Homo sapiens: one gene and its partner. The protein of the gene in region 2 binds, or shares a complex with, the protein of the main gene of each other region. Each region holds a gene or a part of one and is shown on either strand. Other genes may lie near its edges. The genes, in order: RSF1 and SMARCA5.

Evidence for each region.
Region 1: SMARCA5 (region 2) and RSF1 share a complex: the UniProt entries of both Homo sapiens proteins name them as parts of the RSF-5 ISWI chromatin-remodeling complex.

The regions. Positions count from the first base shown.
Region 1 is NC_000011.10:77,810,499-77,824,657, reverse strand, and holds the start of RSF1 (remodeling and spacing factor 1), read left to right. Parts: upstream 1-3,935; 5' UTR 3,936-3,943; coding exon 3,944-4,130; intron 4,131-14,159. UniProt on the Homo sapiens protein: Regulatory subunit of the ATP-dependent RSF-1 and RSF-5 ISWI chromatin-remodeling complexes, which form ordered nucleosome arrays on chromatin and facilitate access to DNA during DNA-templated processes such as DNA replication, transcription, and repair.
Region 2 is NC_000004.12:143,547,802-143,563,918, reverse strand, and holds the end of SMARCA5 (SWI/SNF-related matrix-associated actin-dependent regulator of chromatin subfamily A member 5), read right to left. Parts: intron 15,992-16,117; coding exon 15,779-15,991; intron 13,923-15,778; coding exon 13,815-13,922; intron 10,801-13,814; coding exon 10,735-10,800; 3' UTR 6,433-10,734; downstream 1-6,432. UniProt on the Homo sapiens protein: ATPase that possesses intrinsic ATP-dependent nucleosome-remodeling activity.

The DNA of each region.
Region 1 (14,159 bases), on a different chromosome or scaffold from region 2:
CTTCATATTGATGGAATTGTACAGTACCTAACTCTTTTGTGTCTGCCTTCTTTTACTCAACATGTTTTTAAGATTCACCCAGGCTGTAGTGTATATCAACAGTGTGTATTACTCTGAGTAGTATATCACAATTTATATTTTTCTGTTGATGAATATTTGTGTTGTTTTTGACTTTTTGGTATTTTTAATAAATTAGCCGTTAATTCTAATTGAGCAAAATATTTCCCCCTAATAGGACATGAAATTTGAAATATCTTAAGAAATTTCTTATTCATAAACAAAGTTGAACCAAGTGTAACTTAATGCTTATTTAAAGGCCTCTTCATGGCAGTAGCAATAAATCAAATACAGGTTTTAAAAATAGCTACTCTTTTTTGCACCTTTACATTCCAGTCTGATAAATATAACTCACTTATATAACTACATAAATTGTCGTTAAGCTCTGTATTCCACAATTTCTCTTAGCCCAGGAAAGCAAGAAGTGATGATAGCATTATGGGTGTGTGTCATTTATTTTCAAGAACAGACTTTAGTGAAGGAAGGCATGCTTAAACCTTGCTTTGTAGCAAAACACTTCTTATCTTTGGGTGGATATAACTTTCTGATGCCAAAGGACTCTGTTTCCCTGCCGATCTAGATTAGAAAAGGCAGAAACTCTAACCTTTATTTATCAGTCTGTTTGACTAACAGTGTGAGCAGTGAGAAAAGAAAACTATAGTAATAAAGCTTTTTTTTTTTTTTAGAATGTTATTTCACAACCTCACTGGAATGTGGGAAGTGAAGTGCTGCAAAAGCTAGAAGCAAAGATAGAAAGTACAGGCAAGGTTCACATAATAAATCTTCCTTTTAGGTTTGAAGGTTCTTTCCATAGAAATTCCTTCACAAAGATACAATTTTATTTTAAAATATCCTGTACCTGGCTTTTATTTAAGGTCAGTTAAGTAACCAGTATATGAAAGTCTTTGTATGTTTCCACAAAACTGTTGTTAAAACTGTATTCTGGGTCAAATTATTCTTTTTTTTTTTTTTTTTTTTTGAGACAGGGTGTAGTTCTGTCGCCCAGGCTGGAGTGCAGTGGCAACTACATGGGATTACAGATGAGGTCTCACTACCTTGCCCAGGCTGGTCTCGAACTCCTTGGCTCAAGGGGTCCTCCTGCTCGGCCTCCCAGAGTGCTTGGATTACAGGCATGAGCCACCCCACCTCGCCCAGATTATTTTTAAACTGGAGTCTTCAGGTCCCCAGGGTCAAGAGATATACACTTGCCCGTTTGGGAATTCTATAAAAATGTTTTAGTTTAGTTTTGTGTTTCATTTCAGTAATTGCTTAAAAACAATATTTTCCGACTTATTAAATTAAAACTTCTTTGGCAGTGATAATTCATAACCATAAAGATATTTTCCTGAAGTAGGATTTTAATTTCTTTTTTTTTTTTTTTTTTTTGAGACGGAGTCTTGCTCTGTCGCCCAGGCTGGAGTGCAGTGGCACAACCTTGGCTCACTGCAAGCTCCGCCTCCCGGGTCCATGCCATTCTCCTGCCTCAGCCTCCCGAGTAGCTGTCTACAGGGGCCCGCCGCCACCACGCCCGGCTAATTTTTTGTATTTTTAGTAGAGACGGGTTTCACCGCGTTAGCCAGGATGGTCTTGATCTCCTGACCTCGTGACCCGCCCGTCTCGACCTCCCAAAGTGCTGGGATTACAGGCGTGAGCCACAGCGCCCGGCGGATTTTAATTTCTTAAAAGCTTTTTTATTGTCGTAAAATACATGTAACATAAAATATGCCATTTTAACCACTTTAAGTGTATACTTCAGTGGCATTAAGTACATTTACAGTGTTCTTTAGACTTTGATTTCTTACATCAGTATTTCTTACAGTGAAATTTTCAAAAGTATTTGCCAAGTTTCAAAAGAACTTTTTTCCTTTAAAAACGGTTTGTATACCACTCAAGACTATGAATCACTATTCAAGGCAATAAATTCTTCTTACAATATAGAATTTTTCTCTTGATAAATTGAGTATTCTTTCTTTAGATAATGGGAATAATACACACCCTTATGGTTTTTCCCCTTTTTAAAACCTGGAAATGAAGAAAAAAATTCGGTGTTTGTGTGACCATTTTCCCTGTTACTCATATAATTATTTGCCCATCTATTTCTTATCTTTCTATAATTACAGATTTCTCTTTTTTACATGGTTTGTGTTGTACCTTGCTTCAAATTCTTTTTTTTTTTTTTTTTTTTTGAGGTGGAGTCTTGCTCTGTCGCTCAGGCTGGAGTGCAGTGGCGCGACCTCGACTCACTGCAACCTTCGCCTCCCCGGTTCAAGGGGTTCTCCTGCATCAGCCTCCCAAGGATTCCCGGCTAATTTTCGTTATTTTTACTAGAGACGGGGTTTCACCATGTTGCCCAGGCTGGTCTGGAACTGCAGAGCTCAGGTGATGCACCCACCTCGGTTTCCCAAAGTGTTGGGATTACAGGCATGAGCCACCGCGCCCGGCCAAATTCTTTTTAGGAATTAGGTACTACATTGAGTTTTAAATGCACTCAGAAAATTCTCAAAGTAATAAATTATAGACTAAATAAATATAGCGGAATTCAGTCTAAATTATAGGAACTCCTTTTTTGATAACTAATATTTTTAAAGTACTCACTATGTGCTACGGCACTGTGCTAATCACTTTACTGTGATTTATCTAGTAATACCGTATGATGTAGGTACTATTATCACCCCACTCTAAGGAGTTCAAAGAAATAAAGAAACCTCCACAGTGTCATGAAGTAGCCCCGCTAGGACTCAGGCCTGGCTGAATCCAAAGCTCAGGCTTCTAAGCATAACGTGTACTGCTGCTTCTCAGGCTGCACATTCTATTTTACATTATTGGTAGTTTCTCTCTGGCGTTCTTTGTGGGAATGTTCACTGCCCCCGCCCCGCCCCGAAGTGGAACCCTGTCTTCTAACAAACTTTTCGCTGCTCCACCGTCTCCTGTCATGTTCCGCCTCTCAATGGAGTCCCAGCCCACACTCCGATTCTGGTCCCTGAACAGAGCCCCTTCCCCTCACACCATGGCCCCCTAGCAGAGCCTGGTCTCCTCAGATCCTCTTCTCCCAGCAGGGCCCCAACTCCTCACTCCGACGATTCCCCCAGAGTTCCGTTCCCTCAGATCCTGCTTTTCCAGCAAAGCTGCGATTCCTGTACCCCAGCAGAGAGCAATACCCCGTCGGCAAACTTCCACAGAGACATCTTACCGAGGTCCCAGCCCAGCCCCTAATTAAGGGCACACCTCTACCTTTCCCCTTCCCAACCTTCTCCCACAACTGTGCTTTCCCCCGCCCTATTCCCTTTTTCTGTTTATTAATTCTCCTCAACCTCTCCACCATCTCGTGGCCCAGTTTCAGGATTCCCCCGCAAACTCACCCACCGCACTGTCTCCTCAAAGTTGCGTTCCCAAACGGCGCAGTGCTCTGCCCGCACTTACGCTCCCAGCGCTGCTTCGGGATCTGCGCTCCCCAACTGCCCTCCGGGAATACGCCCTGCAGTTGAACAGCGCCCGAGGCCCCGCCCCCTCTGCGTCCATTGGCCATTGTTCTCGAGAAGTCCCGCCCCTCCCGCTTCCAGCCCGCCTCCCCGCCCCGCTTCCCTTGTTTTCATTCCCCCTGTCACACGAGGCAGTGGCAAGCCCGAAGGGGAGGAGAGAAGGGGGCGGAAAGAGGGCGGAAAGTGAAAGGCGCCGAGGGCCGCTCTGTCTCCCGTCTGACTCGGTTCTCGACTGCTCCGGGCCGCCGATGTATTGTGGGATCGCGGAGCCGTCCCTGAGACGCTGGGATCCGCAGAGGAGCCCACTTGAGAGCGCCTCCTGTCGTCTGTAAGGTTGCCTTGCCATCCCTCGGCACCACAACTTCCCCCGCCCCCCCATCGCCTCCTCCTCCATCCTCCAGTTCAAAATGGCGACGGCGGCGGCAGCGGCGGCGGTGATGGCTCCTCCGGGCTGCCCGGGTTCGTGCCCCAACTTCGCCGTAGTCTGCTCCTTCTTGGAGCGCTACGGGCCGCTGCTAGACCTGCCTGAGTTGCCGTTCCCTGAGCTGGAGCGGGTGCTGCAGGCGCCGCCGCCGGACGTCGGCAACGGAGAAGGTAAGCGAGGGGCCCGAACGCCCGGCGGGAAGCGGCCCTGGCGCTCTGCTACTCTCCGCTCTTCACAGGCGCCCCGGTTCTTCGCGGCTCGGGCCTCCGCGGCTCTGTCTTCCCCCTGGGACGCAACTCCGCCGGGCTGGTCTTCTCCGCCCAGCCCCCGGGGTCTTGGGCAGTGGGGAGGCGGGGCGGAGGCCCCCTAGGGCCACTCGGCCGGGCGGGGAGCTGAGGTGGAGGCGTTGCGGGCTAGGTGTGGGCTGGAGGCGGGGAGGGGTCATTGTGCCGGTCGGCAGCCCCGGGGACTGCTTCTCCGCGGCGGAGGGCGGCCCCCCACCCCGTCTCCCCCTTGGCGGCGGGGGAAGGGGAGCGCAGGTTCCGGCCAGCTTTGCGCTTTTCTCCTCCTCCCCACCCTTACTCCCTCCCCTCCTCCCACCAGTCTTCCCGACCATCTCGGGGAAGGCTGGGCTCGGCTGCTCCGGACACCTCCTTATCTCCCTTCACCTGGGTGGGCGGGGGCCAGCGGACACTCAACTCTCCCTCCCTCTGTTGGGAACTCCCCTGAGAGATTTGTCCCTTTTCCCTTCCCCTCGAGGGCTGCTTTAACCCCTAAAACTCCTTCCTTGAAGTGGGGAGGTCTGCTCCTCCCCCACGGGAGGGGGTTCTTCTCCATTCTCGGTAGGGGGGCGAAGTCGGTTCAGCTCCACTGTGGAGAGGAGAGGGTTAATTCCTCCTCCATAGTTCTCCTTCCTCTCCCCACCTCCCCCAAAATAATAGGCGAGCATCTCCCCACTTTTCCAATCCCTTCCCCCTTCATCTTGGCAGCCGGGCTTAGGCGAAGAAGTCGTCTCCCTCCCATTTGCACGGTAGGGTGGGGTGGTTAGTATGTAAGCTGGAGGAGGGGCTCTGACGGAGGGGGAAACAGTTGAAGAAGGTGCTTGTTGCTCATGTTTCTCTCTCTGGTGCCGCTGGTCTATTATTGGTGTTCGCAAGTGGTGCTCCTTCCACATAAGGCCACCGCGCGGGTGCAGGGCGCATGCTCTGCCCGGCCCCATTGAAACTTCCTGCTGCTGCTGCTGGTTCTTTTGCTGGAGCATCTCAGCGCTGCGCCTGCTGCCTCCAGCCTTCACACTGAGTGCTTATACTCACCCCCATTTATTCCCGATCCCTGCCTCTCCTTTTCTGGCACTTTTCTTTCCTCAGAGAAGGCTTTTTTGTTATACTCTGAGCATTGCCTTTATCTGGAAACAGCCCTTGGCTGGAGAAGAAACGTTTTCCAAATAGGTCTCTTTTTTTGTCCATATTAGCTGGCCAAAGTGGATTGGTTATTGTACAAGACAGATAGCTGTTTCCTTTCCAAGAAAGCAGGGTCGCTCTTCTATTCTCTATGTAAATGAAGAAGTTTCTGTTAACTGAATTTATTTGCATTGCTAGGAAGCGCCAAGTATGAAGTTCTTCAGAATATTACCTATAAAGAATCTGTATGATGTTATGGCTACCGAAGACTCAAATTAATACAGCAGTTATAATATAAGCCTAGTAATCTGTTCTTACCTGTCCACATTCCCTCTACCTGTAACAAACTGGCTTACAAAAGGCTAATTTAAAAAATAGTACAAAATAGGAGGGTGACTAATTACATTATATAAAGGCTTCTCACAGAATTTGTTTAAAAATTAAGCTCCCATTGTAGTAATTTCATTATCAAATTGTATTTACATTCTTTTTTATATTTTTTATTTTTATTTGTTTTTTGAGACGGAGTCTCACTCTGTTGCCCAGGCAGGAATGCAGTGGCAGGATCTGGGCTCACTGCTACCTCCGCCTCCCAGGTTCAAGCGATTCTCCTGCCCCAGCCTCCCGAGTAGCTGGGATTACAGGTGTGCACCACCGAGCCCGGCTAATTTTTGTATTTTTAGTAGAGACGGGGTTTCACCATGTTTGCCAGGCTGATCTCGAACTCCTGACCTCGTGATCCACACACCTTGGCCTCCCAAAGTGCTTTACAGGCGTGAGCCACCAAGCCTGGCCCGTTTTTTAATTTTTAAGAAGGTAGTCATTGTGAAGTAGGATGCCTTAGTAAGTTGCTTTTAGGATGCCTTGGGAAGTGATAGTAATGTATCTCTCAGAGAACGAACTGTGGGCATTTGGGGAAAGGATGGCTAGTAAATTGTTTTGGTAATTTCTTTGGACCAAGTTGAAATGCATAGGTTTTCTGGGATGGCGTGGTATTTTGGGTAGTATATGAGATTGCTTGAATCTACATTTATTTTAGGTATTTTGACCAGTGCATTTAGTTTATATTAATATCACAGGAATACAATATTAGAGTCAGTTGAATTGAATAGTGGTTCACTAAGTAAGTAAAAATGACAGGTAACCTGGGCTAAGAAGGATCATTTATTTCAGCCACTGCATTACCGTTGGTATAGAGTTGCTAAGGGGACTGATAATAATAGATCCTATCATAAGGTGATCTTAGAATAATTATTAATTAATGTTACACAGTTCAGAACACTTGGCAAATGAGAAGTCTCTGCAGGTGAAATGCTGTTACTGTGCAGGGAAACGATTTTCAGAACTTTGATGATGAACCATGATATCATCATCAAAGTTGGCTTGTTGGGTGAACCTCTGTCGTTTTATCAGCTATTACAAACTTTCAGCCTGTTTCAAATAGCTGATAAAATGATAGTGGCTCAGCCAACAAGATTTGAACTGAGTCTTTTTGGGAAAGAGTTGTAGTGTACAAGAGTTAAAAGACATGGATTTAGTTCCTTGCAACTGTTCTCTGAAGTTGATAGTATTATTCCTATTTGGCAGGCATAGAAACTAAGGCTCAATAGATTAAGGTGCTTAAGAGTCTATAGTTAATGGTAGAATATGATTTCCAACCCAAGTCTGAGTCCAAAGCCACAAAATTATATACCTTGCCATAGTATCATGGTTTCCAAACTGCACCAAGGCACCCTAGAGCATTGTTGCCAACTCCATCTGATAGTTTAAATTTTCAAGTAGGATACAGTGGTAGCCGAAATTTGCTGGTTGCCAGGTGAGCTACTGCCTTGACATACTTCATGGTTTCAAGGTTGTGCCACATTTCTATAGATGATATGTCTTTGTGAAGCTGGTTTTTTAGCGGTTGCTGTGGTAAAATTCACAAAAAAGTCAGTATGCAGCAGGAAAGAGGATAGCAGGGTCCACTCTGATTCCAAGGTTTGAAAAGTTGTGCAGTGCCCAACAGTAATACACATTTCACAAGTAATTATGGTTAAGAATGAAGTAAAAACATTATTTGTTGAAATTTAGCTAGGTTATTTTTTCACATGGCTACTGACTACTTAATAAGTGGAAGTGTTATTATTTCTGGCCTAGGGCTGCTGTGAGAAAATTACTGAGATACTGAGGGTGCCGTGAAGCTAGAATGTTTGAGAACCTTTGCTCTAGAAACTATCATTGAATTTCGGGGCAAGAAAGAAGGGACTATTGTGTCATTGCCTTTATTTTTCAGGAGGAAAATCAAGCTACAGAGAGAGATTTCAAGTGTATACAGCTAACTGTTGGTGTTAGTCAAATTCTTATTTGAAAAGCCCACATATATGCTGAAATTGTCAACAAAAAATTTAGATTTATAGTTGATACTAGTTATAAAAGGATGTGCCAAATGAAGGTGGTGTTTTATCCTCCTCTCCCTGCAGTCTACTTTAGTCCTCCCAATTCTGTGCTTTGTGTGGACTTCCCCAGGTTTCTCCTAACTGGAGGTAGATGATGGTGGTTATGGATAAAGTTGACGTTGACTTTGTGAGATCCCTGACACCCAAGGCTCCTAAGTATCTTTCCTCTCCTGCAGAGAATATTTCTTTTCAAGAGGAAACTATACTACTGTATTCTTTAAAAACAGTCTGGATATTGGTTGAGATGTTACATATATCTAATAAATTTATTAAGGTAAATACAGATAATGTGTTAGGATTCTCATAGTTTATACTATGGTTGGCTGAATTAGTTGTATGATATTAAGTAAGTTGAGCCATTAGTTTTTTGTTTCATTTTTGCATTTAATGATTTGAATTTTAACTCGAAGTGAAAATATCAAAGTTAAAAAAATGCCTTTTTAACTGGAATTGTAACTATAACTTACTATGGTCTCTCTTACTGGTACTGTAACTGATCTGTGTGTAACAATATATTTTTAGGTGCATTTGATAAAGTGGAAAGGTGATTACTGTAACTGGGGCCACATGTGTTGATTTAAACAAAAGATTTTACCAGGTGCATGTACTAGAGGTTGCATGAGTCTACAGTGGTAGACACTGGTAGGGCATACATACATTAATAGTAGTATTGCTGGGGCCAGAGCCTGGTTAGGTTGAAACTTTTTAGTTGTGTCTCTTCTGCCTTTGAAAAAGCAAATATTCTTTAGGGCACTTATTAGATGAAAAGAGAGAAACAGATTTCATCTCCACCATTTTCGATATGTCATAGAGTAAAGTTACGGAGGTTTGGAGGGAGGTTGTTGTCATTGTCCTAGGAACTAGGAGGTAATGGAGACAGAGGGACTTGTCTGGCTAACATGAGCCTGTTAATGCAAACTGGCTTACTTTTTAGTCTTTTAATGATTAAGAAGTTTGCCTTAAATTTAGATGTTTTGTTAAGTTCTTAAACAGACCTCACCGGTAAGAAGGTAAGCAAGCATTTATTAGTGAGGTTATTCACTTAATATATATATTGAGCATCTGCTATGTACAGATGTAGCTACAGTAAATATTGTGGGGATTATTTTTTTAAAAAAACATTAAACATGAGCCTTTTAAAAGAAATTTCTAATCTAGTAAGAAATAGCTAAACTGAGCTTGAAACTAATGACATCATTCAAAGACTTAGTTTTTTTTCTCTGAGATTTTATCAAGTGGAGCAATAGTCCGTGCATTCTAGTCTACAGTTGTAAACTAAAATTATCTAACAATTTTATGGTGAGATGTATGACCACATGCAATATGAAAAAGAATAATTCAGGCCTAAAGTACATGTTAAACTGAATCATGTATTCAAGGAAGACAGTTATGTGTGTTGTTAGATTTAATAAAATTTTACTCTACCTGATGGGTATAGTCTTAATATATTATGCTTGGCTTTTTTTGTTTGTTTTCTGTTTTTATTGTAGAGTAGATCCCACAAAAGGTATTAGGGTATTTTCTATTTTCTTTTAAAAACATTTAATTATATGGGCAATTATAATGTACACTTTGTAATTACATATGTTCTAGCAGGCTTTGATTTTTAATTTGTTTAGCTTTATATGGTCATATCTGTACGTTAGGTTTGCATTAGCTAACTTTTAAACATTTTTGCTCGCTCTTGTACTGTTGGGCACAAGCAGTGCCTCCAGGCAAATTGATGCCTAAACTAGAGAGAACAGCAGGCATTCTCTCCTTACTCTTCCACTTCCCCTTTACTTCCATTTCCTGATCCTCATGTCTGAAGTCACACCACCTTTAGCCATTTGAAGGGGCTGCTTCTTCCATTTTACGCTTTCTTTCACTTGTATGCCATAAAGTGCAGTGCCTGCTAGCTCCAGTGTGCTCTGTATGAGGTTTGCACCAGTGTGTTAGGAAGAAAGGAGGCACTGAAATTAAAAAAAAACCATATTTTGGGGGTTTCCAAGTCACTAAACAATTGAACCACAATAATAGAGGAAACTGACTTAAACAGTATTAAACTGGTATTGCTTCAAACATTATCAAAGGATTTCTGAGGTGAATGCCTACTTTATAAAAATGTATTTTTTCGGCTGGGCACGGTGGCTCATGCCTGTAATCCCAGCACTTAGGGAGGCCCAGGCGGCGGATCACCTGAGGTCAGGAGTTTGAGACCAGCCTGGCGAACATGGTGAAACCCCATCTGTACTAAAAATACAAAAATTAGTCAGACCTGGTGTCAGGCGCCTGTAATCCCAGCTACTCGGGAGACCGAGGCAGGAGAATCGCTTGAACCTGGGAGGCAGAGGTTGCAGTGAGCCAAGATGGTGCCACTGCACTCCAGCCTGGGTGACAGAGCGAGACTCTGTCCTTTTTTTTCCCCCCCAGAGTTAGGGCCTTGAATTCCTGGGCTCAAGAAATCCTCCTGCCCCAACCTCCCGAGTAGTTGGAACTACAGGCACATGCCACCATGCCCAGCTAATTTTTAAAAATTTTTTTGGTAGAGAATGAGGTCTTGCTGTATTGTCCAGGCTGGTCTTGAACTCCTGGACTCAGGTGATACTCCCACCTCGGCCTCCCAAAGTGCTGGGGTTACAGGCATGAGTCACCACTTGTGGCCAAAACTTTTTTTTTTTTTGAGACAGTCTCGCTCTGTGGCCCAGGCTGGAGTGCAGTGGCGCGATCCTGGTTCACTACAACCTCTGCCTCCTGGGTTCAAGTGATTCTCCTGCCTCACGCTCCCAAGTAACTGGGATTACAGGCATGCACCACCATGCCTGGCTCATTTTTATGTGTTTAGTAGGGACAGGTTTTGCCATGTTGGTCAGGCTGGTCTTGAACTCCTGGCTTCAGGTGATCCAGCCACCTCCACCTCTCAAAGTGCTGGGATTGCAGGCATGAGCCACTGTGCCCAGCCACTTCTTATTTTTATCCTGAGTTTAGGGATGTGTTAAATTGTATTAATTCTCCATTATCTCTGTGTGTGTGTGTGTGTGTGTGTGTGTGTGTGTGTGTCCTTTTACAAATTATAAATGGCCGCTCTTTGAGGAAGTCGCGGTGGTAGGTGCTGCGGCTCTGTGATCCGCAGGCTCCTGCTCCTTACTCACTACTGTTCGCTCTCGCCGAGGAACAAGTCGGTCAGGAAGCCGTGCAGCAGCTATGGCTTTGAAGGTTACCGGAAAAACACGCGTGGAGCTGGAGGTGGCAGTTCACCGAAATTGAATCACTCTAACGAGCCGCAACATAAAATCCCTGGAAAAGGTGTGTGCTGACTTCATCAGAGGAGCAGAGGCAAAGAATCTCCAAGTGAAAGGACCAGTTCGAATACCTACCAAGACTTTGAGAATCACTACAGAAAAAGTCCTTGTGGTGAAGGTTCTAAGACGTGGGATCCTTTCCAGATGAGAATCCACAAGCGACTCATTGACTTGCACAGTCCTTCTGAGATTGTTAAGCAGATTGCTTCCATCAGTTTGAGCCGGGAGTTGAGGTGAAAGTCACCATTGCAGATGCTTAAGTCAACTATTTTAATAAATTGATTACCAGTTGTTAAAAAAAAATTATAAATGGCAGACTTGATCCCATTCATCATTAGACTACTTTCATGTTTTGCTCAGAATTAAGTAAGTTTTAATATTCATTTAAAAATACTTATCAAATAAATTTGGTTTCTCTCAAAGTAAGTTGTGTAAGATATTCTGATTTTAGCAAATTATTTCATAATTTGTGCCTTTCTGTTAATAAACAGAAGAAGCAGGGATGAGGTGGTGGGGAATTTGCAGTGTTTATTTAATCTTACCAGTTTAGAGGCTGGACAAAGAGCAAGAATTAAAAGTTATGCTTAGAATGTTTGTCCAAAATTAAGGTGATCTTTTCAGTGTAAGAACATGAGTTGTGAGGGCACAGCAAGCAGAAACTACACCAGACTGATTTTTTTTTTTTTTTTTTTTTGAGATGGAGCTCTGTCACCCAGGCTAGAGTGTAGTAGTGCGATCCCAGCTCACTGCAACCTCTGCCTCCTGGGTTCAAGTGATTCTCCTGCTTCAGCCTCCTGAGTAGCTGGGACTACAGGTGCCCGCCACCACGCCCAGCTAATTTTTTTGCATTCTTAGTAGAGATGGGGTTTCGCCATGTTGGCCAGGCTGGTCTCAAAAACTCCTGACCTCAAGTGATCTGCCTGCCCCGGCCTCCCAAAGTGCTGGGATTACAGGCATGAGCCACCACATCCAGCCCAAACTGATTTTAAGAAAGAAGAGCATGAGGGCAAAACTTGACAGCAGACAGACCAGGCTTCAGCCTCCTGTAGTTGAACAAGGATTGCTTGAAGAGCAACATGAAGTATATAATGTATATATGGCTCATGTAAGCAAGAGTTCCTCCAGAAAGCTTTCGTAGTGGAGGTTGAGTCTGTATTTAATTTTAGACTCTAAGCTTTATTCTCCAGTATTTGTACATGTTTATCTTAATCATTTTCTGAATAGTAGGATTATACAGTTTTTTCCCTTTGGTTTTTCTTATATTTTTTCACATTTCATTTTCTATGTTAATTGTGCATTTCTTTGATAATCACCAAAAAACTATTTAAAACTAGATTTCTAAAGAGGCTTTTTAAAAGGAAAATTGAATTTCTGCTTGTATTTATGTACTCTTATTTTTATAGACAGGGTCTCACTCTGTCACCCAGGCTGGAGTGCAGTGGCTTGTTCTCTGCTGACTGCAACCTCTACCTCCCAGACTCAGGCGATCCTCCCATTTCAGCCTCTCAAGTTGCTGGGGACTACAGGCATGTGCCACCACACCCAGCTAAAAATTTTTTGTATTTTTAGTAGAGACAGAGTTTCATTATGTTGCCCAGGCTGGTCTCAAACTCCTGGGCTCAAGCAATCCACCTGACTCAGCCTCCCCAAGTGCTGGGATTACAGGCGTGAGCCACCAAGCTCAGCCTATTTATTTATTCTTAATCTTGAATTACCTCTTAAATGAATGTTACTATCATCTACCCAAGTCACTCAGATCAGAAACCAAGGAGGCATCCTAGACCTTAGCCTCTGACACTTTCTTTGATACCAAGTTATATTGAGTCTGTTTATCCCCTTTTATATTCAACCTTGCTTTTCTGTTCTCATTGCTAGTTTTAATCACGCCAAACTGCTTTTACATCTCTGAAGATGTGAAAGGTTGTTTTACATTTATGCTTTTTCTTCGTCCTCCTGCCTCTGAGTCGAATATACCATCCCCATCTTCCTTCCCTTGCCTGCTCACTGTACCCGTCATTAGTCTGCTCTTTAAGCATCAAATGCTCTGTGGAAAATTTCCTTCTTTCTGTCTCTCAAGTTAAATTAACCACTTCAATCTCCTTACCCTGCACGTACACTTTGTAGATTTTATGCCACAGTACTCATAACACTTTTTGCAGTTACTGCCTAGCCTACAAGATGGTAAACTCTTTGAGGACAGGGTTTCTTACTTTATTTTATCACCAGCAATTGGTGGGTAATAGCAAATATGTAGTAAATGTTTGTGGAATTAATAGTTTTCCTCAACTTACTATAGGACCATGTTCTGCTCTAAAACTTTGAAGTTAAAGCCTAGTCTGTGATAGCTTAGTACAGTGGTGGGCAATCTACAGCCTGTCCTCTCTATCTTTGTAAATAAGGTTTTACTGGTATACAGCCATGTTCATTTGTTTACATTCTGTTGTCTGTAGCTGCTTTCACACAACTGTGGCAGAGTTGAGTGATGGTCACAGAGAACATATAACTTCAAAACCTAAAGTATTGGGCTGGGTATGGTGGCTCATACTGCAATCCAAGCACTTTCGGAGGATTGTCTGAGTCCCAGAGGTTGAGGCTGATCATGCCACTGCACTCCAGCCTGGGTGAAACAGCAAGACCCTGTCTCAGAAAAAAACAAAACCCAAAACCTGAAGAACTTATTATCTGTCTAGCCCTTTACAGAAAAAAATTTACTGATCTTTATTCCAGTGTATGAAGATGGAAGTCTTATCAGATGATGATCTCTGTTTTTGAAAATACATTTAGAACCAGTATAATACAAATTTCCAGCCTCGCCAACATGGTGAAACCTGGTCTCTATTAAAAATACAAATTAGTTGGATGTGGTGGGATACACCTGTAATCCCAGCTACCTAGGAGGCTGCCACACAACAATTGCTTGAACCCAGGAGGCAGAGATTACAGTGAGCCATGATTATGCCATTGCACTCCAATCTGGGCAACAGAGGGAGACTCCACCCATCTCCCCCCCAAAAAATAAAAATAAAAAGGAACCAATATAATACAAATTAAATGCCTAGAATGTCCTGTGAATGAAACTT
Region 2 (16,117 bases):
ATTTATTCATAATTCTGGAAAAGTAATAAAAATACATTCACTATATTTAACCAAAAGCATAAACATTCTTTTAAAAAGTAGTACTTGTTATTCATTATGTGCCTTTTTAAACTAATTCAATTATCTTTACTGTATATGATTTTCTCTATATAGATTTCTATTCTGTATGTTACATTCTATTTTTTACTTACAAGCAAATCATTTTTTAAACTCAAATGTGTTAACTCTCTTGAAGTCATGTGCTATCAATAAATAATAAATAATATTGAGAATATTACCTTGAAAAATCAAAAAAAAAAAGAAAACAAGTTATGTTCTTCCAAGATACAATGATGAAATAAAGACTGATAAACATTTCCACTTCAAAATGGAGAAATAGGCCAAAAATAAGGGGCAACAGGCCCCACAGAAATCTGCAACCCAGTAGGGCAGACATTAAATCTTAAAGCTCCAAAATAATCTCCCATGACTCCATGTCCCACATCCAGGCCACACTGGTACGAGGGGTGTGCTCCCAAGGTCTTGGACAGTCAGACCCCTATGACTCTGCTGGGTGCAGCTCACATGGCTGCCCTCATGGGTTGGAGTCGAATGCCTGTGGCTTTTCAAGGCTGAAGGTATAAGCTGGCTCTTCCACTCTGGGATCTGGAAGGCAGTGGCCTGTTCCTACAGCTCCACTAGGCAGTGCCTCGGTGAGGACTCTCCATGGGGGGCTTCAATCTCATATTTCACCTCAGCACTGCCCTATCGAGACTTTCTACAGGGCCTCCACTCCTGCAGCAGGCTTTTTCCTGGGCACCCAGTCTTTCCACTATATCCTCTGCAATCTAGAGGAAAGTTGCCAAGGCTCCACCACTCTTGCCTTCTGCCTGCCTGCAGAACTAACACCATGTGGAAACCTACAAGGCTTATGGCTTGTGCCCTCTAGAGCAGTTGCCCAAGCAGTATCTGGGGCCCTCTGAGCTGAGGCTGGAGCCAAAGCAGCTAGGATTCGGGGAACAGTGTCCTGACTCTGTACAGGGTAATGGGGGGCCCCAGGCTTGGTTCCCAAAATCATTCTTTCCTCCTAGACCTCTGGGCTTGTGAAGGGAGAGGCTGCCTTGAAGAATTACCTTCAATAATTTATAATATAACCAGGAATCAAATTTCTTATTACCTTTCTTCATGGGTTTTCTGGCCTCTAAAATGGAAAAAAGATTAATTCTGTTCCTAGAGATATGTATCCAGCAAGAAGATCTGTTAACAAGTCAGATACCAAGCAGAGTTAACCACACAGTAGAAAAATGTGCCCGTACACGCTGTCATTGGGTGCCCACATCAACCTCTAATGTGAAATTTAAGTAATAGAAAGAGGAAAAGTATTTTTTAAATGTACCAAAACATGAAAAAGTTTTATTGACTGGCAGAGGTAAAGTTAAAGTAATAGATTTACCAGAAGGTAGAAATACTAGTTGAGGGTGTTGTTTCCCCCACCCTCCTACAAAATGCTGCTTCCACAGTTTCTCCAGAATTTGCAGTTACTTTCTGACTCCACATATTCACTACTCCCTGATTTCAGAGGAGGGTCCAAATCTCTTTATTTTCCAAATTGATCACTTTGAACCCTGACATTTTTAGGCCCCAGACCTTAACAATAAGCCTCAGTCTTCTTTACCAGCTCAATCATTTCTACCTGCCATCTTTCGTTCTTCTCAGAAAAAGCTCACTTTATGGGCTGATACCTGGAACCCTAGTGGTCATCAGAAAATGGGGTTTAATACTTGGCAGTCACATGCATGCTTGATATTTCCCAATCTCAATGCCTAGGATGGCATATCCCCTCTGTCTTGTAACCAGAAAAATGTCATTTGTCCTCAGACTAAAGAGATCATGGAGAACTGTTTCAGCAATAGATATGGAGCAAGGAAGCATTATTCTTTCCTATGCCTGCATGGAACAGCAACTGAGGTTACAAATAATACTCCCCTGTTTTCAATCTTTCGATGGCTTTCTATCACAAACTATTTTGTGGACTTAGGGAAAAATCAAAACATATTTCTTGTCTACAAGACTGTAAAAGCTCTATTTACATGATGTGGCCCTAACTAAGTCTCCATTATTATTTACCACCTCTCTCTCCCTCCCCCACTACACTCCAGCCATGGTGTCTTACTGCTGTTCTTCAAACATAACAAGCACTTTCCCATCACAGGGCTTTTGCACTTGCGGTTCCCCCACTCCTCCTAAAGATCTTCACACAGATGTTTGATGGTTAACTCTCTTACATTATTCAGTTTTTCATCCAAATGTCATTTCCCCGGAAACAACTTTGCTGACCACCTTAAGGCAACAACCCAACATCAGTATCTGCTTACTCTGTGTTGTTTGTCTTCACAGCAGTAACGACTTTCTGGATTTTTATATGTGTTTGTTTATGCATATGTGTTAGCATATAAACTCCATGAAGGCTGAGGTTTTGTCAGTTCTCTTTATTGTTTTATCTGTGGTACCTAGAATGGTGCCTGATACAGAAAGGTTCTATATAAATGTATGTTAAATGAAGGATTTGACCAAGGAGTATCATCAAATTTCCTGTTGCCTGAGCCAGTAGCTGACTTCTCTGTTGCCCCTTGCTTTCAAGCAGCTGGTTGAGTAATTGTATTATACACATTGGGTGGCCAACTGCCATTCTGAGACCTAATTTTCTAGTTCTAAAGAAACTATAAAATTGATCTGAAGAAACTACTAGAGCCAACAATAATTCAGGAATTCATCCCACCATCTGAGCACTAATTTCTTGACTTTCCTCTGAAGATAGGTGCTAGACCTTTGGCAAACAATGGCAGCAAATGACAGGAAAAGTCAAGTTAAGACCTATTTTGCCTTAGCACTGCTATATTCCTATGGTCACAAGTGTTTCATAGTATAATCACATCCTCTTGTTTAAGTGGCATAGGCTTAGGATTGTTATTTTTCTTTAGCATACACATAAACAGGGGCCAAAATTGAACTCAACTGCTGTATATTGGCTACATCAAATATTGCAGTAAGAATCTGGACTTTGGGGTTTGAATGGACAAATCTATATTATAATTTTCCTCTGATATTTTACAAATAAACTTTTCCATCAAGGAGTCTACACACACTGGTTCTACATTTTCTTTACCATCAGATCCTGTTTTGAACACTACCATGCCACTGAAGAAAACTGTTCTCTCCAAGGTCAATCTGCACTGACCTGTATCAGTCATTAAATCCAATGCCTCCTTCCAAATTTTCCACAGCAGCTTTCAAAACCTGTGACATTCTGGGTCTCCTCCCATAACTGACTCCCACTTTACAGGCAGTAAAATGTAGAAGACAATGCATGGACAATAAAGTTATACCATTCTGGATCAAGCAAATCTGTTCCAGTTTTGAATTCTCACTCAACCACCTATTGGCTACACAACTTTAAACTAGTGGGTTCACAAACCCCTAAGCTTTACTTTCCTAACCTATATAATGGAAGCAATCATATCCACCAAATGTTGTGGTTATGAAAACTAAATAATAATATTGTCTTTTGGCACACGGTTAGACATTAAATGAATGTAAGTTTTCATCTTTCTTTTGTATCCTCTATCACTTCCTTGACTATTTTGTCTTCTTTCAACAAAGTCTCTCCTGTTATTTTCATTTATTCCATTAACTATCAGTTTTTGAAGGGCTCATGTAAATATTCAGCTCCACACTTATTGAAAATTTCTTAATTACTTACAAAATTTGTAAGTCACTGATATGTGACTTACCTAATGTAATTACCCTAATGTAATGCCCCACGGGGTGGGACAGGAAGGTGGGTGTCTGCGGTGGAAGCAGGATGGTACCCACGTGGAGGTGTCGGCCATGTCGAGGATGCTCCCTGGTGGCAGGGTGGAGGAGATGAGCATGTTGCCGATGGTGATAGTGATGCGGAGGCGGGAGGGCAGGGGCCCCACCTGGAACAGGCTACTGATGTCGGTGTCAAAGGGGAGGTAGATCCCTCATGCTCTAGCGCGTCGACCCCATTCACCCACACGATGGCATAGGAGTGGGCACTGACAATCCTCAGTACCACTCTTGTGTGCAGGTCCTGGGTCCATTGCTCCAGGAAGGTCACCTCCCGTTCGTACCACATCTGGTCTACAAAATGCCGCAGCCGCCAGTCCTGGCCAACGTCGTTGAAGCTGGAGGGAACCGGTATGTCCATGGTGGAGCCCGACTCTCGCAGCAGACGCCGATACCACTACTCCTAGAAGCCAAGGCACAGTTTGTCGAAGAAGTCGGCGCGGAAGCTCCAGAGGCGGTCCAGCTTCTTCCGCTCCCGCGACGGCCTCTCTCTTGGGTACAGCATCCCGCCCTGCAGCGCCAGCGCGCAGCCCCACAACAACGGCCCGAGCGCCTACCAGGCGTCCGCCGCCCCCCGGACCATGCTTTCCGCTCCTCTGCTGGGCCGCCGTCTGCGGGCCTATCAGCAGCGCGGGAGGAGCCCTGCGGACTGGTCGCGCGCGACGTGACGCGCCAGTCGCGCAGAGGGAAAGTATTTTTTTAAAACCAAGAGATTTGAACTGACGAACAATTACAAATACCCAAAGTGATGATTTGTCCCCCTGTGTTTAAAAGTCTTGGTGCTAGACAATCAAGGATGTTTCCAACATGTACGTAGAAGACTCTGACCTTCTAGCACCACTGTTCGGGTGTTAAACCCGGCCTAGTCCTACGTGACTGCCTGCGCCTTTCTGTATTCTAGTCTTTCACTCCCAGCTGCAGCTGGTAGCCGGCAGCGTTTGACCTGCAGTGGGCAGCTCACCTTTGTTCCTAACACTGCCATCTCGCGGATGGGGTCTGCAGCCGCCAATCAGAGCGTCAAGGTGAGCCTGGGGAGACCTCTACAGGTGCCTGTGGTTTCATTGTAACTACCTAAACTATTCATTCTCTTATCAAGCACCCACCCAGTTCCAGTACTGTCCAGTTACAATAAGGAGCCCAATGATAATTTTTTTTAAAGATTAGTTCCTGCTGTGAAGAAACTAAACTCAGCGTACTCTTGAAGGAGCTCCCTCTAACTTATCTTACGACTATTAAGGGTGAGAAAAAAGCACTGTGGCGTCTGCAGCATTTAGATTGGTAGGAGTATTCTGCAAGACTTGTGCCATTACTTTTATCAAGTTGGCTCCCAGGGAAAGAGGTGGCTGGGGAGGAGGGGGAGCGCAAAAAATAGGAGGCTGGGGGAAAGCCAATACCCAGAGAAAAGACCTTTCTACAACTGGAAAGCATACTAAGAAAGCAAACCTATCCATCTACTGGGATTAAAGGGCATATAAAATGAAAAAAAAAAAAGTTACTCCTTGCAAAGCTAGGATGACCAGATGGCCCCTTGCCACCTCCCAGAAGGGAATCTGAAAGTCAGCTAATCACCAGCCTGTTTGTGAGGAAGAGCCAGTAAGAACTCCGCCTTTGCACAGCAAATCTGTATCATCTATTCTTCTTTTTCCCTCCACTCAGGATCCCTACACCCAGCCAGCATGGGCATCAAGGAAAGCAGGCTGGTAAACTTCAGGGCAGAGATCCGCTTCTGAAGGCAGCTAGTAATGTCTCACCCAGCTAAGCCTTGCTACTAGGCAACAGCACTGCCTCACTCAAGAAATTATCAATCTGCATCAGGCCAGATGCAGTGGCTCACACCTGTAATCTCAACATTTGGGAGGCGGAGGCAGGCAGATCATTTGAGGCCAGGAGTTCGAGACCAGCCTGGCCAATATGGTGAAACCCTGTCTCTACTAAAAATACAGTAATTAGCCAGGTGTGGTGCATGCCTGTAGTCCCAGCTATCCGGAAGGCTGAGCCAGGAGAATTGCTTGAACCTGGGTGGCAGAGGTTGCAGTGAGCCTAGATCGCACCACTGCACTCCAACCTGGGTGACAGAGCAAGACTCTGTCTCAAAAGTCACTAGTGTGCATGAGACACAGAAGCTTTGACAAAAATTCAAACAGCCATGGAGAAATACCGATGGTCTACAGAAGCAGTGCTTAGTCCTTGCTAGAATTCTCTAGTTTTGAAACATGGGAATAAGTAGAACTGCCAATGTGTCTGATGAGTAACTGTGGTATTTATTGCAACTGAGCTCTAGAAAGAGGCTACTGTTGTCTATGATCTGTCCTTTCCCCAACCACCCAGGCATCTCTTTGTCCACTCCAGTGATGTCTGCAGACCACCCTAATGTCACCTCAAGAGGGGTGAACCAACCTTCCACTGGCCAGCATAATAGCCTTGGAGTTTCATCTCAGATTTCATAGTGAATTCGGCTTTCAGGGCAGGATTTAGTTTGGGATGAAAAAGTGTTTCCATTAAGTATTGTATTTGAATCCTGGGTTCTTCAATGATTGAGGAAGACTAATAAAGAAAAGTTTACAAATAATCACATGAACTAAATTAGGACTTCAAAAGTTTAATGAAGTGAAATAATCTCTACTTATCTCTATTTCTTTTCCCAATTTATTCACAATCTATATACATAAAAACTCCTTTGGGTTGTCTACATCAAAAACAAGAATTTCTGTAGTAAGCAAACTATATGCATATTCTTTGTATTAATAAAATATTTTTGTCAATGTAGTGTTTACATTGTTTATATTACAAAGTTTCCAACATTAACTAAATTCTGATAAACTTTCTTCTTGTACTGGAGATACATGATATGCAACATTAAATATTGGTGTCCTAGAGATAAGAGCCACACACCTTGTATGCTGTAGAGTTAAAGGCAAGTACCTAGATCCTCAATCTTCTCATAGCCTCATTACCCCCCAAAAAAGCTGTCATTAGAGCTAGGGAATCTCTCCGGACACAAGGGAATCTGTGGTAACAAAGAATGTAGACCCATGTTGCCAGTCTTGAGTATCTCAGGTGAGGTGCCAGTCCACTTCTGAAACAATGCTTTGCCTCTTATGCCTGTGGAGAAACTATTCCACTTCTTCATTTTTTTCATTTAGAATCATATCATTTCAGTCTTTTTCTTCTTACTTCAATTTTGGTTCTTGTAGCATAGTCTTTTCTGGTAACTACTGTAAAGTTAATGCTGCAAAAGCCTATTTAATCATTCTAATAAAAACCTTAACAGATCCAAAACGATTCTGGGATGTACACAGCGAAGTTAATTCTGCAGCACTGCTCCACACCAAGAATGTATTTTGCCCATTATCTGTCATCTGAGGGATGCCCTCACCTTTGATCTTGACATCAGATTCCAACAGGCAAAGATACATTTTGGTAACAGCTATGTACATATACAAAATATGTATATATTTTGGTAACAGCTACTCCGTTAATACATGTCTTCTAGCATTCCATTCATTTGGATTTATGAGTTCATCAATCCACCTTGTGTCATTAATCTACTTTGTTTAAATTACCCTCCTTAGTACCCATTTTTTTAGCAATGTTCTACTCCAAAACTACTGGTTTGAAATATAGTAGCACATCCTTTCAAAAAGATTTGTTTTTTAGATTCAAAGGGATAGAACAAGATGAAATTTATTTTTTACTCAGAATTTTTCTGAAAAACCACAGGGGTGTTTTACAATGCTTTTTAAGATCGAGATTAAGAAAGGTACTAAGCCAAAGATCATTTATATAATCATTTATATAATTAAATCCAGATTAGTTCAAACAATCGGCATATATTAAATACTCAAAGGGCAGATGGAGCAATCCTTATCTGAAATGCCTGGAACCAGAAGTGTTTTTAGCATTTTCCAGACTTTAGAATACTTGCATTATACTTATCAGTTCAGCATCCCTAATCCAAAAATCAGAAATGCCCTAATGAGCATTCAAATTATGGAGCATTTCTGATTTTAGATTTTTTGATTAGGGATGCTCAACTTGTACTCTATGCTTAGGATTTGCTTCTCTCAACTTTATGAAAAACAAAATGTAGGCCAGGTGTGGTGTAGGCTCACAACTATGATCCCAGCACTTTGGAATGTAGGCTTACACATGTAATCCCAGCACTTTGAGAGGTTGACGCAAGAGGATTGCCTGAAGTCGGCGTTTGAGACCGGACTGGGCAACATAGCAAGGCCCTATCTCTACAAAAACTAAAAAAACTTAGCTGGGCGTGGTATCTGTAGTCCTAGCTACTTGGGAAGCTGAGGTGGGAGGATCACTTGAGCCCTGAAGTTTGAGGTTGCAGTGAGCTGTGATTGCACCACTGCACTCCAGCCTGGGTGACAGAGCAAGACCCTGTCTCTTAAAAGTAGTAATAATTACACTTTATAATAGCCTCCAGCACTTTGTCAGATGTACAATTAAGCAATCTTTCATGCTTTGTTGTTAAAAAAAAAAAAAGACATTTATTCAGTATCATGATCAGATTATTAAAACATTTAGCAATCAACAGCATGGGTACAAAACAAAACAATCTACACTGAAACCCTGTGTTGGAATGCTTTACTTTCCACAGAACAGAAACTATTATACAATTAGTCACAAATACAGTCATCAAGTTCTGTGATCGTGGTGGCTTTGGTGGCAGCCATGGTGGTGGTGATGGATATGGTGGCAGTGGGGATTGCTATAATAGATTTGGTAATGATTGAAGCAATTTTGGAGGTGGTAAAAGCTACAATGATTTTGGCAATGACAACAATCAGTCTTCAAATTTTGGACCCATGAAGGGAGGAAACTTTGGAGGCAGAAGCTCTGGGCCCTATGGTGGTAGAGGCCAATACTTTGCCAAACCACGATACCAAGGTGGCTAAGGCAGTTCCAGTAGCAGTAGTGGTTAAGGCAGTTCCAGTAGCAGTAGTAGCTGTGGCACTGACAGAAGATTTTAATTACTGCCAGGAAACAAAAGCTTAGCGGGAGAGGAAAGCCAGAGAAGTGACAGGGAAGTGACAGGTTAAAACAGATTTGTGAACTTGGCCAAACACAGTGGTGGCAGGGCCTAGCTGGTTCATGCTTTTTTTTCAAGTGAGTTTCCCTTCACACAGTTTCCATTTGAGTCCCTAAGCTCTCAGGGCTACCACTATACTTGATTCATTTTGCATTTCCACTGTGTATCTCCCTCCCAGTTTCTCCTCCTCTTGAAAACATCACTTTTGTGACCTCCGTAAGTTTTCTTCAGCCTTACATTTTTTCAATTTCTTCCAAACTGAGGTGATAACTCTTACAAATTCTTTTTCCTTTCATAAGTAACCATTCCTCATGCATGTATTAGACCTTTAACTGTTAAGAATCTAACATAGTATTTAAAAAGTTAATTTTGAGGTAGCACTAAATTCAAATTACTTTACAATTTGCCATAAATACTGCGTTTTGCTTGACATTAACAGCAGCAATTCCACATTTCAAGAAATTAAGCAGTATTAGTAATACTGCAGGTATCAAAATTTTTTTTTTAAATCTTCAATTACATGTGGGCAGATGAAAACAACTACTAATAGAAATTTAAGGGAAAGATATCCAATTAAGGGAAATGTGTCCTAAAGGAAAAAGTGAATAAAAATTGAGAAAACAATTAAAGAAATGGAAAGAAAAGACCACTTTACGGATTATAAAAGTTATATTTATTCACGATGCTACATTTATTGCATTCCCTTAGAAAAATGGAGAACTGTTTATGTACCCAATCTGCACATATAAAATTTTATACAAATTATGTGTAGCACATAAAGGCCTCTGGTACAGCTAAAATCCTGACACTATAATTTGGGTATTCCTGCTTTAGGGTCTCCAGTTTATCAGGTCTGTCCATAGAAAACAGAAACTGGAATTATAGTCAGTCTTGCTAACACTTAGAAACTACTTTAAAATACAATAAAATTTTCATTTACCCTAAAAGTCCAAATGGGAGGGGATATATTTTGTTACCAATTTCAATGTAACAGTATGACAAATTCACACCTCATTTTGGCTGGGCTTTCAAAATTAAAAAAAAAAAATCACCTTAGTTCTGACATTATCTAAGTTGTGGCTGCTTCAGAAGGTCATATGACAAAATATTTACCAAATAATTAAAAATAATAATAATAATATTCCTTTTACAAAATGGTACAGTAATACCTTAAGGAACCGGAAAATACTAAATGTCTTTGGCTATACAACTAAAAGGCCATTCTTTCAAAAGAATAGGGCATATTCATTTCAGAATCAACTAAAAAAAACAGAAAGCATAACAGAAATATGCATAGAATTTAAGTATACTTTGTCTTGCCTTCTTTTCCCATTCTACCCACATAAGCAAGGAGAATGCAATTTATATAATCTTTCCAGATGAGACTCAATAGCACTACAAAGAAAATACCCAAATTTCTGCAAAGGCAAAGTGAATTAAAATAATTACACAACTAGGTGAAGACTGAAAGGGACAAATGTTATTTGCAATTTTCTTTTTAACTTGTTTTTAAGCCTTACAAGTGTAGAAATTATAGCTAATAAACAAAAAGTCACAATCTTCACAAATGGAACTACAATAGAAAAATAAATCAAATGAAACACTTAGTAATAAATGAAGCCTATTTTATTACTTCAAGTGTTAATGATAAAAAAATTTCAGCACAGCTGTTGCATTTAAAAAAGTGAAACTACATACTATGTTTCTAGCTCAGTAAACAGATGAACCTGATGTCTTTAAATGACATAACAATTGAGCATTGTACAGTACATCTTATGAAGACCCGTAAATTAAAGAACTACTGGTTTAAAGTTAGTGATTATGAAACAAAAACATATTCATAGTTTCAGCTTCTTTTTTCTTCCTCGACCATCAGGTGCGCCATCCATTTTACGTTTCTGTGTCTACAAACAGACAGAAGGATTACTTTTCACAAGACTAATATAAACATGAAATATAGTTGCAGACACATTATAACACTTTAGTAATAACAACTACTACAAAGTAATAGGTATGAGACTTTTCCCCCAGGCTATATAAATCTTTCAAAGCAAACTATAAAGCCTCCAAATAATCTTACCTACTTATTTTACTTACAGAATAAAAAATGTTAATGTTAATAATGACGTTATAAAACTAATGCACAATTAACAGTAGTAGATCAATATCAAATAAATGCAAGCTTCCCAAAATAGTAAGAAACACTTGAGTTTTTAAAAGGCAGTTACATAAGTACCAAATATTATCCAGAGATACTCATTTATTCATGACTTTATAAATTAACCATTTTTTATTAAATTAACTATTATTAAATAACATTTTTTCCCTTTAAGTGTTTGCCTTCACATTGCTAAAACATCACTGAAATAATCAAAGCTTAGAGACTAACAGTAAAAGTCATAATACCACTGCTTTTCCAATGTTTCTTAAATTATTCTAAAATTATAACTTGTATTCTCAATGAGATGTGTACACACTTGACATTTACGAGACATACTTTCCTGATTTTCACGAAGCCCCATATTAAGGACTACCATATCATCAAGAAGTGATTTTTCCCACACAACCCAGTCAAGCTAAATTTGTACTTTTTAAGTATTTCAAGGAAGTCCTAGCTACAGCAATCAGACGAGAGAAAGAAAGAAAGGACATCTAAATCGGAAACAAAGAAGTCAAATTGCCCTATTTGTAAATGACATAATCTTACATTTGGAAAAACCTAAAGACTCCATCAAAAAACTATTAGAACTCATAAACAAATTCAGTGACACTGCAGGATACAAAATCAACATACAACAAACAGTAGCATTTCTATGCCAACAGTGAAGAATGTGAAAAATAAAAAGTAATCCCATTTACAGTAATTACACGTGAAATAAAATACCCAGGAATTAATCAAAGAAGCGAAAGATCTCTAAGATAAACTATAAAACACTGATGTAAGAAACTGAAGACACAAAAAAATAGATATTCCATGTTCATGGATTAGCAAATTCAATATTGTTAAAATGTCCATACTACCCAAAGCAATCCACAGATTCAATGCAATCCTTATCAAAATACCCATGACATTCTTCACTGAAATAGAAAAAAAAATACTAAAATTTATATGGACCCACAGAACACCCAGAAATAGCCAAAGCCACCCTAAGCAAAAAGAATAAAACTGGAAGAATCACATTACCTGACTTAACTTATAGTACCGAGCTATAGTAACCAAAACAGCATGGTGCTGGTATAGAAACAGATACATAGATCAGTGCAACAGTGGAAAAGAACAGAGAACCCAGAGATAAGTCCGTAAAGTCCATACATCTACATGGAACTCATTTTTGACAAAGCTACCAAGAACATACACTGGAGAAAGGACAGTCTCTTCAATAAATGGTAATGGGAAAATTGGATATCCATACACAGAAGAATGAAACTTGACCTGTATCCCTAACTATATAAAAAAATCAAATCAAAATGTATTAAAGACTTTAAGTCCTCAAACTGTGAAACTACAAGAAAACATTGGGAAAACTCTCCAGAACACTGGACTGGGCAAAGATTTCTTGAATAATACCCCACAGGCAACCAAAGCAAAAATGGACAAATGGGATCACATTAAGTTAAAAAGCTTCTGCACAGCAGAGGAAACAGCAAAGTGAAGAGACATCCCACAGAATGGAAGAAAATATTTGCAAACTACCCATTTGTCAAAGGATTAATAAATAACCAGAATATGTAAGAGCTCAAACAACTCTACTGAAAAAAATCCTAACAGTCCGATTTAAAAATAGGCAAAAGATCTGAACAGATGATTCTCAAAGGAAGACATACAAATGGCAAACAAGCATATTAAAAGCTGTTCAGTATCACTGATCATCAGAGAAATGCAATCAAAACTACAATGAGATAACATCTCATCCCAGATAAAATGGCTTTTATCCAAAAGTCAGGCAATAACAAATCCTGACAAGAATGTGGAGAAAAGGAAACCCTCATACACTTTTGGTGGGAACGCAAATTAGTACAATCACTGTGGAAGCAGTTTGAAGGTTCCTCAAAAAACTACAGATAAGAGTTACCCTACTCCTAGGTTTACACCCAAAAGAAAGTCAGTATATCAAAGAGATATGTGCACTCCCATGTTTACTGCAGCACTATTCACAGTAGCCATGATTTGGAAGCAACCTAAGTGTCCATCAACAGATAAATGGATAAAGAAAACATGGTATGTATACACAATAGAATACTATTCAACCATAAGCAATGAGACCCTGTAATTTGCAGCAACATGGATGGAACTGGAGTTTATTAAGTGAAATAAGCCAGACACAGAAAGACAAACTTGGCATGTTCTCACTTATTTGTGGGAGCTAAAAACTACAATTAAACTCATGGAGACAGAGAGAAGGATGGATACCAGAGGCTGAGAAAGGCAGTGGGGGTGGGGGAAAGTGGGGCTGGCTAATGGATACAAATAAATACAAAGAGAGACTAAGACCCAGTATTTGATAGCCCAACACAGTGACTACCGCAATAAATAATTTAATTATACATTTTAAAATAACTAAGAGTTAAACTGTTTGTAACAGGGATAAATGCTGGAGGTGATAAATACCCCATTTACCCTGATGTCCTTATTACTTATTGCATGCCTGTATCAAAGTATCTCATGTAACCTATAAATACATACTTACTCATAACAACTAAAAATTAAAAATTATACCACTACCTAAATTTGAAAGTGGAAGAATCTCAAATTATGAGCTTGGGTTCTCCCTTAAGGAAAAAAAAAAAAAAAAAAAAGTAAAGGCAATGGAGGGGTGCACAACAGGGACTAACACATCAATGACAGCCAAGCAGTGTTAAATACTTAGAAAGGGGAAATTTACATAATCCACATATTTACATATTCATGAATACTTACTGAAGGCTTTGGTCCTCGTTTCTTTTTCTCTGCCTTCTCCTTTTCTTCTAGTTCCATGTTTTCTCTTTCAATCAAAGTAATTAAGGTATTACATCTCCTCTGGAGCTCCTAAATTATAAACAAACATGGTACACGCACTTTCCATCCACAAGTTTCATGATTTCAATTTTAAAACAAGGTATGTTTTAATAGGATAATATATAAAACCACTAATACACCCCTGATTTAAAAAAAAAACAACTGATTTTCATATACAATTCATGCTATGAAGATTAAAGGCAAGATATTTGTAAATAATGTTTTTACTCCAATCTTTAAAGCCAAACTACTGTGTATTCTTCAAAAATTCTTCCTTCACTTAGGAATTAAAGCAATAAAAATGAACATATGCAATACTGCTACTTAGTGTGTATGTCTGAGAACTACTGTGCTACTTATATCCAAAACTTAAAAAGATTAATAGTGCACATATGTGAGGGTCAAAAACAACAAGAACTTTAACAGGTGTGTATAATCTTTCCCTTCAAAGTATCACTAGAATTATGGTAGTCAATCAATCACATGGCACCTTTCCCAATTTTGGAAAACCAGCCATGGAAGTCTACGATGAGTTCTACCTCATCTCTCTCTGGCAAACTGGACATACAGCCTCCAGAAAAGATTTAAAGTATAACATAGAAGTAGCAGTTAACCCTGAAAGAAACAGAAGTCCATCTGCACGGACGGCTGCTGGGTAGCAGCCCCCTTTCTTATAGAGCAAAATTATTTTTTTCTTATAGTAAGTGATACTACTACACACACAACTACAGTAAAATAATTTTAAAATACTACTGTATAGAATACACCACACAAGACTTAGAAATAGTATATAGAGATAGAAGAATACATTATCATTTTTTGTGCATCTTAACATGGAACATGTTAAGAAGTAACACAGTTTTAAATTACGGTACTGTACTAGTTAAATTAACATGGCACTGTCTTGTTACAATCACTATAAAATTATTCTTTATTAACTCTATAAATTGTTCCCACTTAAGAAGAAATAAGCTTTCAGCAACTGGATCTTTTCTCTAATTATATATTTATACAGTGTTTTATCTTCAAAGTATCTTCATGTATTTAAGTTTAGTACATTTCCCAAACTTGGGTATCACAAACAGTGATGTCTAGTGAAAAAAAATTTTCAGTGGTCAAACATGAAAATACTGCTTACTATCCACTGTCTTACAAAGTGACATTTTACTTTAAATATACAGAGAAATCTTACTATAAACAAACACAAAGATGTTTAAACTTTGCTTATCCCAGAATATCCCAAACTTAAGACTAAAGAACTTATTAGCATTATCCTCATCTGGCAGAAAACAAGTTGAAGCTCAAAGTTCAATGGTGGTGAAATAAGGAAGAAAAGGAGCAATCCATCAAAGTTAAACTTTTCTGAATTCAAATTTTAGGTTATTAGAAATGGGGCTATTTGGTCAGAAACTGTTAGTCAGATATTGGGAATAAAAACAAAACCTAGCACTAAATCAGTGCAAAAGTAGTGTTTCACTATAATAAGCCATCTTAAAATAATCCAGACTCTGGATGATTTATATTAAATAAATCAGAATGCTGATTCTGATGTGCAGATGCTTGAATGCAAGGACCATTTTTCTTTATAGAAATATGTTCATTTGAAAAACCAAAAAGTCGTAACACTCAGAAGTTGAAACTGATACTTCCTCCCACTTAGAACTTGAAAAGCTAGTCTTATCATATAGTGATATTTAAAGACGTAAGATACTAAAGGATAGGACCAATAAACTTGTAAGCTATCCCTGGTATTAGGTTTTATGATACTAACAATATTGTAACAAAAGTCTACTTCATAGATTTTTTTAAAGTCACCTTAAAGAATACCAAAGATGACACTTACTCTGAACTCTGCTACATTACACAAAAAAGCCCTGAGCACTCACCATTGCAGTTCTGGACTTAAGAAACCAGTCAAATCTGAACTGAGGAGAGTTGCGAATACACTGTCGCAATTCATCATAAACATTTTCTTTGTCAAATCCAAGTTTGTGAAGCATACAAATCAGAAAACGATCTTCTTCTTCAGTATAGTTTTTTCCTTTGTTAGTACCATATGATATTCTCAGCTGATGAAAAGGTGCTTTGTACCGTCCAATCTATGAAAGTCAGATTTTATATTATATAAAATACAAATCCTATATAATCTGTATTTCAAACTCAGCTTTAGTATAATTAGCTAAAATGTTGCATTTCAAATCAGAATTTTCTATCTAGAGCACTTC